Linked DNA regions of Homo sapiens. The protein of the gene in region 2 interacts with the protein of the main gene of each other region in a biochemical or structural test. Each region holds a gene or a part of one and is shown on either strand. Other genes may lie near its edges. The genes, in order: POU2AF1, POU2F1 and RXRA.

Region 1 (3,670 bases), on a different chromosome or scaffold from region 2:
AGGCCTGATCTGAGGTTTGTGAGGGCAGTCGCCGTGCAGGTGAGAGGTATGACTCGCAGAGCATTCAGGAGAAGGACTCTAACACTTGGAGGGTCATGGGGGGTGCCCATAAGTGGGATGGCCATGGAGATCAGCTCAGAGACAGAGGACGATGAGGATGTGGAAGGCACCAGGCAGCAGCAGGAAGGAAGGCCAAGTTTGCTGACAAAGCAGTGCTTCCCCCATCTGGGGATGGCCAGGCCTCCCCATGCTGGCCACCACTAGAGGGGTGGGAGGTGATGGAGCTGTGTTGGCCCAAGGGGACCTCCAAAGCTGTTGTGTGGAGCCCGGACTGTCTTTGTGTCTGGGCAGGACAGTGGCCACCTTCCAGATACAGCTTCCAGGCTGTGGTTTAACATATATTTTCACAGATTTTAAGATGCATATATTTTTAATGTTTTAAGATCTCTGAAATAGAAATGAATTTTGTATTCAACGAAACCTGGAAAATCCTCTCTAATTGGCCTAACCCAATGAGTTCATTACTGTTTGTATTCTATTTCGTAGATGAGAAAAATGAGCCTTCTGAGCAGGAAGTGGCCTGAGCAAAGACATATAGCTAGGAAGGGTCAGGATTGGGGCTGCGGTTGAAGTCAGCCTGGCTCCTCCCTTGGGGAAGACTTTGAGCAGGAGGAGGTGGAGCCCCATGAAGTGAGAAACCAGGAAAGGGCAGAATTGAAGGGGGAGATGGAGACCCCTCTAAGGGCAAGGATGGGTGGATGGGTCTCCTGGGGCTGCTAACCCTCTGTCACGTGTTTTCCTGTCACAGACAAGAAGCTCCGCCACGCCCGCAGTGGGGCCCCCGCTGGAGGGCCCAGAGCACCAGGCACCCCTCACCTATTTCCCGTGGCCTCAGCCCCTTTCCACACTACCCACCTCCACCCTGCAGTACCAGCCTCCGGCCCCAGCCCTACCTGGGCCCCAGTTTGTCCAGCTCCCCATCTCTATCCCAGAGCCAGTCCTTCAGGACATGGAAGACCCCAGAAGAGCCGCCAGCTCGTTGACCATCGACAAGCTGCTTTTGGAGGAAGAGGATAGCGACGCCTATGCGCTTAACCACACTCTCTCTGTGGAAGGCTTTTAGGCGTGGCTCCCACCTGAGTCCTGTTCCCTGAAACTGGGATTTTAAAATGAGCCTGGAATTGAGCCCCAGGTTCATGCTTGTTTGGAGTAGTCATTTCATGACTACACTTTCTACGCACAGCTAGAATTGTAGACCTGTAAACCTTCCTTCCCTTCTTCCTTCCCCTCCCTCCCTCACTTCCTCCCTCTCCCCCATCCTTCCATTCTTCCCCTCCCTCCCTTCTTCCTTTCCAACCCCTTCCTTCCTTTTCCTCCCTCCCTTCCTTCCCTCCTTCCCTTCTCCCTTTCCAACCCCTTCCTTCCTTTTCCTCCCTCCCTTCCTTCCCTCCTTCCCTTCTCCCTTTCCTTCTTTACCTCCCTCCCTCCCTCGCTTCTTCTCTCTTTCTTACTTCTTTTTTCAATTCTGTTCCATTTTGGGAGGTAATTATAGGGATTTTAGCAATAACATTTTATGTCAAATGTTGCCAAGTCTGTGGTCCATGGGCTTTCATTTCTGTCACATTTCATTTCTTGGAAAAGGCCTCCTTCCTCCAGTGCCTGCTGAACCATCTTAGGGTCACTCACACCCTCTGTAATTTTAAGATGTATGTGGTGGCCGGCGGGAAGACCAGCCCCGACAGCACCTCCTGAGAAAGTCAGCCAAGGGCCTACCCTGATGCCAGAGTCCTTGAGCTGTCAGTTCCCACAGTTGCTCCTTTGTTTGCTCTTCTCAGCCTCGGCCAGATTTACAGTCCAGGCAGCAAAATCTCAAGGCCTGGGGCTCAGAGTAGTAAGGGGTGGGAAGTGGGTGGCAGGGAGAAAAGAACATCAGGGTGGGTGGGGACAGGCCAGTGACGAAGAGAGGGACAGAGGAGGGATGGGAACAGGCTGTGCATCTTAGTTGGAGAGAGGGGTGTGGGAGGAAGCTTGAGTTTGATGCAGGGAGGAGGAAGGCTGAGGAATGACTTGGCTCCAGATTACTTGGTTATTAAGAAGAACAATAAACTAAAGGAAAGCATTGCTTGAAGAGATGGTTTTGCTGCTCTCCTTGAGGATACGTGCAAGGGAAGTTGGGCTGTTGTAAACAGGGTGAAGGGTGTGTTTGGTCGGCCATTTCTGTCTCACCTCTAGGCCCTCTGCTGGTGCTGTGGAGGCCAAGACCCCATTAAGCCTAAAGGTGATGGGTCCTCGCCTAGGCTTAGTGCTACCATGTGGGTTTTGTTTCTTTCCTTCCTTCCTTCCTTCCTTCCTTCCTTCCTTCCTTCCTTCCTTCCTTCCTTCCTTCCTTCTTTCCTTCCTTCCTTCCTTCCTTCCTTCCTCTCTCTTTCTTTCTTTTTTTTGGTTTTTTTTGGGACGGAGTCTCACTCCATTGCCCAGGCTGGAGTACAATGGTGCGATCTTGGCTCACTGCACCTCTGTCTCCCAAGTTCAAGTGATTCTCCTGCCTGAGCCTCCCGAGTAGCTGGGATTACAGGTGCATGCCACCATGCCTGGCTAATTTTTGTATTTTTAGTAGAGACGGGGTTTCACCATGTTGGCCAGGCTGGTCTCGAACTCCTGACCTTGTGATCCGCCCGCCTCAGCCTCTCAGAGTGCTGGGATCACAGGCGTGAGCCACCGCACCCAGCCTTTTACCATGTGGGTTTCTTTAGTGTCTTAAAAGCGTCCATAAGCCACCATTCTGTGGAACCAAGGCCCCCTCCACGCAAACACCCTCCCTCCTGGGGACCTCTGGAGCCTCAGCCAGAAGTACCATTAGGTTTAATTTTAATTTGTTTTGCTGGAGAAACATCAGGTTTGTAGGAGACTGAGTTGTTAGCAGGTGTGCTTAGCTCTTGATAGTGAACGTGTACCTTGGGAACTGGCTCACCCACCTGCTAATAGCACCATCGTCACTATTAAGCAGACATTTCAGTTGGTAGAATCCATGTAGAAGTCATGGACTTTTCTGGGAAATGACTTTTCTGGGAAATGACAGTTTCTTTGACATATTTTCTTTGCCCACTTTAAATAAAAACTCTGGAGAAAGTTGTCTGTTTTGGATTTTCTTTTTCTGCTTAAGATTAATTTTGACCCAGATTTCTCTGTGCCTGCCTTAAATCCCAGTACACAAATCTTGAATTGTTTTTATTCAGATATTTTTTAGATTTAAAAGTTCAAGACAGCATTTGAGAAGATGCATTTACATCTTTGTCGGTACTGATGGTAAGTAGGTGGGCAGGGCTCTCAGTCCTATTTGATTAAAAGCCCTGGTTTTCCATAAAAAAAGACACTATGCAAGATTTTTCAGCGTACCATTTGAGAGGGTGCAGAAGCAACCTCCGTAAAGGAGTTAAAGTTGGCAAAAACTAGCAAAGAAATATAGTACTTTACGTGTTTGCTAAGATAAATGGTCTATTTTTTCTCTTATCTTGAGGTCAAATGTCTTGGTAGTAGTCCATCTGGGTTTCTTCCCGAGTTACTCTGCTAAGATGGAAACATTTTCATAAAGATTTGTAGAGACTTTTCTGTGCCAAAGTGTTTCATTTCTTATCAAGTTGATCCCCCTAAGCTTTCAGTCCCATGTTAG
Region 2 (3,649 bases):
GTTTAACACACAGCATATTGTTCATTTTCCAGCCATTCCTGTTTATATCTTCTATTGCAAAGAGAAAGTTCAACAGAGGGGGGGAAACCTGCCATAATAATTATTATTATTGATTTAATTTCATATACCATTTCTATATTCCAACATAAAAAGCATAAAGTTACAAAGAATTATGAAATAAATAATGTGATAAACTGCACTTGCTATGACTTTCAATATTGAAGACTTAGTAAAGCTACTACAAACACTTAGCTTTGTGGAATGTGAACATTGGCTGTTAAAAAAAAGTTAGTATAATGTATCCTCTCCGGATAAATGTCCAGGAGTTCCAGCAGTTTAAAAGAAATCTGGGCCAGGTGTGGTAGCTCATGCCTGTAGTCCCAGCACTTGGGGAGGCCACAGTAGGACTGCTTAAGCCCAGGAGTTTTAGACTAGCCTAGGCAACATAGCAAGACCCCATCTCTTAAAAAAAATTAAAAATAAGAGAAAATAAATGAATAAAAGATAATCTGATAAATCTAGAGGTTTGCTGATTCTTCTTTTGCTCAATTACTAGTCCTGTCAGCAAATGTAGGCAACACTGAAATCTTGAGTGCTTGCTTAATTGGAAATAAATAAATAAATAAATAAAACCCAAAAACAAAAGAGCTCTATTAGTCACTGAGTATACAAAGATACCAATGCTCAAAAAATTCACACCCCATAGTAAAAACACACAGAACCCCATAACCACATGCACTGTATGCAAGGAGCATCTTCAAATCAGAACTTCTGAAACTCAAGACAATTCTCATATTCCAAATTCTAAACATACTGTAAACGGATCAAGTAAGTCAGGCAATAGCTCTACTCAGGCTATTTTTGTTTCCATTGTTATTACTGCTGAAACAGTTTATAAGAGCTCATCACCTGTTTAGAACACAGAAATACTTCGGTACAAAACAAACCAATTTATTCCTAAGAAGAATTAAAATCTACAGTTATTCAATTCTCTTTACTTATGAAATGTCAATAATGCACAAAAATGTCCAGCGAAAGATGCATAAGGAAACTGCTATTCTCTGTGAACCTTAATTATTATCCCTTTCAACCACTCAAAAGGATATTTACATCCTTTAAGCAACACAGTAAGAAGTAAGCAAAATGGTGACTCAAAGTTACCCCAAAAAAAGGAAAAGGAAAAAATTCATGCAGAAAGGGTACAGAAATTCAAAGCAGATATGTCACTGAATCAAATCAACAACTTTCAACTCTAACGCCCAAGAAATAGTAAGTACATTTGCTCAGGCATTTAGCATTTAAGGAGGGATCAGAAACAAGAACATGGATAACCAAAAGGGGGCATGTTTTGTTTGTGACTTGGTCTGTTCCCTAAACGCAAATTACCTGAATAGTTCTAAATTCAAATGCAATCACTTTCATTAGGAAAAACACATTCCTGCTTAAAATCAGGCTTCATAGCAAGTCTTTACTAATCACAAAAACTGTGTAATTAACACAATTATATAAAGGCAAATTAATGAGTCACACAACATTATTTTTAATGGTGCTTGAAAGACTAATATGCAAAGATTACAACTATGGGGTTTCAAAATTAAAAAACAAAACAAAAATAACCGATAACAACAAGGCAATCACTACTACATAATATTACAGTCTTCCAAGTACAAAGGAAACATTCATGAAAATGAGTGACCAACTTAAAAAACACAAATAAATTCAAGATGAAGCAATACAGATTCAAGAAGCAGGTCAAATATTTCAATTTTTAATAGAAAATACTTAAAGATAACATTCAAATTTCCACTTCTGTTATTTCAGAACCACCTGCCTAAGATATTCAAGGGTCTATTAAACATCTTTGGTGGCTTGAGAAGAGCAACGTAACATTTTGAGCCCTGAACTTATTGCAAAATCCACTAACCAGATGAATGGCAGATTGACAATTACTTCAAACTAGGCAGCAATGAAACATATTTTATTTACACTGCTTTATACTACCTATTGATGTAGAGAATAGTAAATTTAAAATATGGCAGAACACTACACCTGAATTCATTTGAACCTGAATAATAGCTACGGTTTGTTTTTTCCTTGTCTACTGGGATTTTTGACAATGACAAAATGAAAGGAATTACAAACTAATTTGAGGGAAGAGGTTAAAAATTGCTTTTACGGTAATGGTTTGGAAGCAGAACAGTCCTTTAGAAATCAAAAACAGTTGGTCAGCTGTCACATGAATTTTCAAGACCTTGATTCAAAAGTATCATTGTAATTAATAGGTGGGAGAGTTAAGAAAGTGACAACGGGCTGGGCATGGTGGCTCACGCCTGTAATCCAGCACTTTGGAAAGCCGAGGCGGGTGGATCCCTTGAGGTCAGGAGTTCGAGACCAGCCTGGCCAACACGGTGAAACCCCGCCTCTACAAAAAATACAAAAATTAGCCGGGCGTCATGGCGCATGCCTGTAGTCCCAGCTACTAAGGAGGCTGAGGCAGGAGAATCACTGGAACCCACGAGGCAGAGGTTGCAGTGAGCCGAGATCGCACCAACGCACTCCAGCCTGGGAGACAGAGCAAGACTCTGTCTGGAAAAAAAAAAAAAAAAAAAAGAAGACAGTGACAATGGATTTCCTAGAAATACGCAGGAAACTACTTGACAGATGCAAAAGGAGACAGGCAGGTTATAAACTCATGTGGGTTCAAAAGTAACCTAAAATACTCTATCAAAATTGGATCACAAATTCAGGTTAGAAATAAAGCAATTTTATCACATTCTCAGGGAATTTTAATCATCACCTTAAAATAAACTAATAATTAAAAATATGAGAAATGTCTTACAAGAAAATCTATTAATATGTCAAAAATTCTAAGTGCAATCACTGTTGCAATGGAACAATTTTAAAATCACTAATCAAAACAAAATGAACAAACTTGTCCAGACTAAGATAAATCCAAAAAGAATTCTGAATTTTTTTTAAAAAATCTGTTTTAAAAGCACATGCTTTCCTGTGAGTATTCTACCTTATTTTCAACATTATCATTTCCACCTTAAAGAATACACAGCCCTCATTCTCAACTCTGCTTTATTCACTGAAATGGATTCTAAGGCAAATGGTCTCTCCATTAGCCTAAGCCATGCTCTGATTAAGAAACACAGTTTCTTATAAAAGTCTGGGGGATCACAACAAACATTTATATGGGTCACTTCTATGACTATCTATCTAAAACCCAAATACTCCATTTGAGAATTTTGAGGAAATGAATTTTTACAATAGCATTAAAAGTGAACCAAAATATAAGGCCAGTTAACAACATCCATCCTTTTCTGTATTACAAAAACTGTAACAGCGAAATTTTGCTTGTAAAATCCAATGTACATTTTATCATTTTGTATAAAATATCTACGGCCTCAGTAGTGATTAAATTGCAGCTATAAAGGAAATTGACCCGAAATAAATGGTTTCCCTATGAGAAGGCTTCACTGCTACACTTCACCTCAGGACAATAAATCAAATTAACTGCACCTTGTCCTCTGTCCAATGACATCATCAGTTTGACCACATCTTGGGAATCGGGTGCAAAAACATATGCTATTTAAGGCATGAAATTATATTGCTGCTTTTTGTCCATCTGACCTCATACTTCAGG
Region 3 (3,649 bases), on a different chromosome or scaffold from region 2:
AGTCTGTGACGGTATTTCCAGCCCTGGCTTTTCCATCAGACCGCCCGTGGTGCCGTCTGCATGCTCCCACGGTGATGGGGCACAGACCCCACCGTTCCTCCCTCATTTTGGTTGCACAGCCTGGGGCCAGTTGGGTGCCATCCCTGCCTGGTCTGTCAGCACACCTGGGCGGGGCGGCCTCGGGGGTGGGAACTCCCTCCTGGGGCCCTGGGATTACTCAGTTGTGAAATGGGGAGAATGGGGACGGTGACACCTGCCCCCGGGTTCCCCATGACAGGGTGGGTATGTGCTGGGAGGGTGTGGAGGGCCGAGCCGGAGCTGGCACGGTGGTCCCCACCAACTTCTTGCTGATCACTTACCCCCTCATGCCTCAGTTTCCCCCTCTGTAAAACAAAGTTAATGCCAGTTTTCCAGGATTACAGTTGGGATTAAGTGGGAAATTAATGACAGTGTCGGCCATAGAGGCTGGAGCCTCTAGAGCGCTCAGGGAGTGTGGAAGGTGCTGAAGGTGACTGTGTGACTGCAGGTGACTCCATGTCACCCTGTCTATAAGAGCTGTTAAAACAGCAGTGCGTGTGTGCGCGAGGGTCCCTGACTGTGTGACTGCAGGTGATTCCACGTCACCCGGTCTCCAGGAGCCCTTAAAACAGCAGTGCGTGTGCACGCGAGGGTCCCTGTTTCTTCCTCCCCGATGCCTGCTCTGCTTCATCTGCACTGGAACCTCATGTTGAGGGGCTGCTGTTACCTAACTGTCTGCCCCCCAGGGAACCCCCACTATGTTGAGAGGCTGCTGTTACCTAACCACCCGCCCCAGGGAACCCCCACTGTGTTGAGGGGCTGCTGTTACCTAACCACCTGACCCCCAGGGAACCCCCACTATGTTGAGGGGCTGCTGTTACCTAACTGTCCCCCAGGGAACCCCCTGATGTTGAGGGGCTGCTGTTACCTAACTGTCTGCCCCCCAGGGAACCCCCACTATGTTGAGAGGCTGCTGTTACCTAACCACCCGCCCCAGGGAACCCCCACTATGTTGAGGGGCTGCTGTTACCTAACCACCCACCCCCCAGGGAACCCCCCGATGTTGAGGGGCTGCTGTTACCTAACCACCCGCCCCAGGGAACCCCCACTATGTTGAGGGGCTGCTGTTACCTAACCACCCGCCCCAGGGAACCCCCACTATGTTGAGGGGCTGCTGTTACCTAACCTTCCCCCCTGGGAATCCCCCCGAAAGAGGCTGCGGCTCTCACGCACCTGCCTTCAGTTGGATAACCTGCTGTTTGGTGGCATTCCACGAAGGGCACACAGATCCCCGAGAGTCCTGGGACCCTGCTGGCAGCAGTGGTTCTGGGGCCATCCTGGGAACATCCCTGGGTGCTCTCCCACGTGCTCCGTGGCAGGAGTGTCCTGCACACGCGGGAGGAAGCTTCTGGGGCACATGAGTTTGTGAGCTCCCGGGTTCCACAAAGCTCAAGGGACTTTGTGTGGGACTTCTCAGGGCCTTTCGTGTGCCGGTGTGTACTGTAGAACGGGCATTCTCAGGAACCTCTTTTCTGTGGAACACTTCATGGGATTGGGGTTCCAGAGCCTGTCAGGATGGGTCGGTGACATGCTGCCTCTGTAGGGTCCCACCAGGGGCTGGGGAAGGGGCGAGCCCCGTGGGGCCTGGAGACAGCTGAGTGACTGTGTGCCTCCTCCCCAGGCTGGAATGAGCTGCTCATCGCCTCCTTCTCCCACCGCTCCATCGCCGTGAAGGACGGGATCCTCCTGGCCACCGGGCTGCACGTCCACCGGAACAGCGCCCACAGCGCAGGGGTGGGCGCCATCTTTGACAGGTGGGGGTGGTCCCGGGAGGGGCGAGGGCGCTTCGGTCACCTCCGCCACCAGGCCAGCTGAGTTCAGCCACCTTGGCCCCGGTGCACATCCTGCCTAGTATTATTTCAGTGCATGAAGGGTGCACACATGGAAAAAGAGAAAAGCATGAGGAGGAGGCTCAGAGCCCTGTGCCAGCCCTGCCTCTGGGGCATCTGTAACCACAGGGAGCACTTGGCCTATCTCCCTCCATCTCTTCTTTTTTCACGATCCCATGTATTTATCCGTGGGAAGGAAAGCTTCGTTTCTTTTTAAAGTGATTATACCGTAGATGCAGTTTTGTAAAAGTGTCAATTCCAGTTGGCATGTCGCAGGCTGCTTGAGGCTGGCACGGTAATGCCGTGGCAGCCCGGGGCGTGGTGCGGCCTAACGCCTGTCCCCGTGCAGGCAGGGGTGTCGGGACCGCAGTGCTTCACACCTCCCAGTGGAGCAAAGGGCTGCACCTCAGCCACTTCTCAGGGGACACACTGGAGGAGCAGCACTGGCTGGAGGGCCCACCCTCGTCCGGGCCTGGGTGGTCCGTGTCCGTTCATGTTGCCCTCCTGGAGTGCTGGCCAACTCCGCTCTGCCAGGCGAGGCGGACAGTAGCTTCCTTGTCCCTGTCTCTGCACAGCCTTTTTTTTTTTGAGATGGAGTCTCGCTCTGTCGCCCAGGCTAGATTGCAGTGGTGCAATCTTGGCTCACTGCAAGCTCCGCCTCCCGGGTTCACACCATTCTCCTGCCTCAGCCTCCCGAGTAGCTGGAACTACAGGCGCCCGCCACCACGCCCGGCTATTTTTTTTGTATTTTTAGTAGAGACGGGGTTTCACCGTGTTAGCCAGGATGGTCTCGATCTCCTGACCTCGTGATCCGCCCACCTCGGCCTCCCAAAGTGCTGGGATTACAGGCGTGAGCCGCCGCGCCCGGCCTCTCTGCACAGTCTTTCTCCACGAGTCTAGAGAGCCACACACACCAGACTGGGCCTTCTGGGGACCGGATGTCAGCTTCAGCTGGAGCGGGAAGGCTGGGGAGGGGCACTGCGGGGTCCCTTGGGCAGGGGTCTGCAACACAGGAGCCGTGGGTGGGGAGGAGCAGGCCACCTGGAGAACGTGGCCCCTGAACACGAGAGCCCCAACGTTAGAGGTGAGTAGAGGCCATGCACCGGCACTTACAGGGGGATTAATGCCCCAGCAGCAATGCCCCAGGGGGTGGTTCAGGTCCCAGAGTCCCAAGGGTGATCCTGGAACTTGACCTCCATGGGATGTGCCAAGTGCAAAAGGGTTTGTGGCCGCAGACGGTGGGCAAACGGTAGTTCAAACAGTGTCCTTGAGGGTCTTTGCCGCAGGACTTGTCAGGGCCTTTAAGAAGTTAGTGTACAGGAGGGTCCCCACGGGGGCTGCAGGGTGCAGTGTGCAGTGTGTATTGCCCACAGAAGCTTCTTTAGAGGGGTACTGGGGATATGGCTTTGGGAAGCGAAGCCCCAGCCACTTGCCCAGCTGACAGATCCTTTGTCTGGCTGGTAGAGAGATGGCGATGACAGAGGTTTCAGGGTTACATTCTCTGGGGTCCCACAGCAGTGACTACAGAGGCCCCGGCATTTCCTCGCCTTTTTTGCGAGTGGAATGCAAAGTCTGCCCTCAGTGGCCCAGGTCTTTTCCATGCCCGCTGCCCCATCCCTCTGCAGCTGTGTGCTCCTGCCTCAGAGCAGACATCGGGGGTCCCTCCCAGCTCCTGTTCTGTCCCACCCTGTTCTCCAGCCTCCTTCAGATCTTCTTCCAGGAATCAACCAGGGCACTCCCCA

Evidence for each region.
Region 1: the proteins of POU2F1 (region 2) and POU2AF1 are reported together in a solved structure, tested with the Homo sapiens proteins (2 studies listed by BioGRID, with this or other methods).
Region 3: the proteins of POU2F1 (region 2) and RXRA form a complex in vitro, tested with the Homo sapiens proteins (2 studies listed by BioGRID).

Annotation. Positions count from the first base shown.
Region 1 is NC_000011.10:111,351,714-111,355,383, reverse strand, and holds the end of POU2AF1 (POU domain class 2-associating factor 1), read left to right. Parts: exon of another isoform or gene 1-808; coding exon 809-1,123; 3' UTR 1,124-3,129; downstream 3,130-3,670. UniProt on the Homo sapiens protein: Transcriptional coactivator that specifically associates with either POU2F1/OCT1 or POU2F2/OCT2. It boosts the POU2F1/OCT1 mediated promoter activity and to a lesser extent, that of POU2F2/OCT2. It recognizes the POU domains of POU2F1/OCT1 and POU2F2/OCT2.
Region 2 is NC_000001.11:167,223,787-167,227,435, reverse strand, and holds part of POU2F1 (POU domain, class 2, transcription factor 1), read right to left. Parts: intron 1-3,649. UniProt on the Homo sapiens protein: Transcription factor that binds to the octamer motif (5'-ATTTGCAT-3') and activates the promoters of the genes for some small nuclear RNAs (snRNA) and of genes such as those for histone H2B and immunoglobulins.
Region 3 is NC_000009.12:134,427,409-134,431,057, forward strand, and holds part of RXRA (retinoic acid receptor RXR-alpha), read left to right. Parts: intron 1-1,699; coding exon 1,700-1,832; intron 1,833-3,649. UniProt on the Homo sapiens protein: Receptor for retinoic acid that acts as a transcription factor.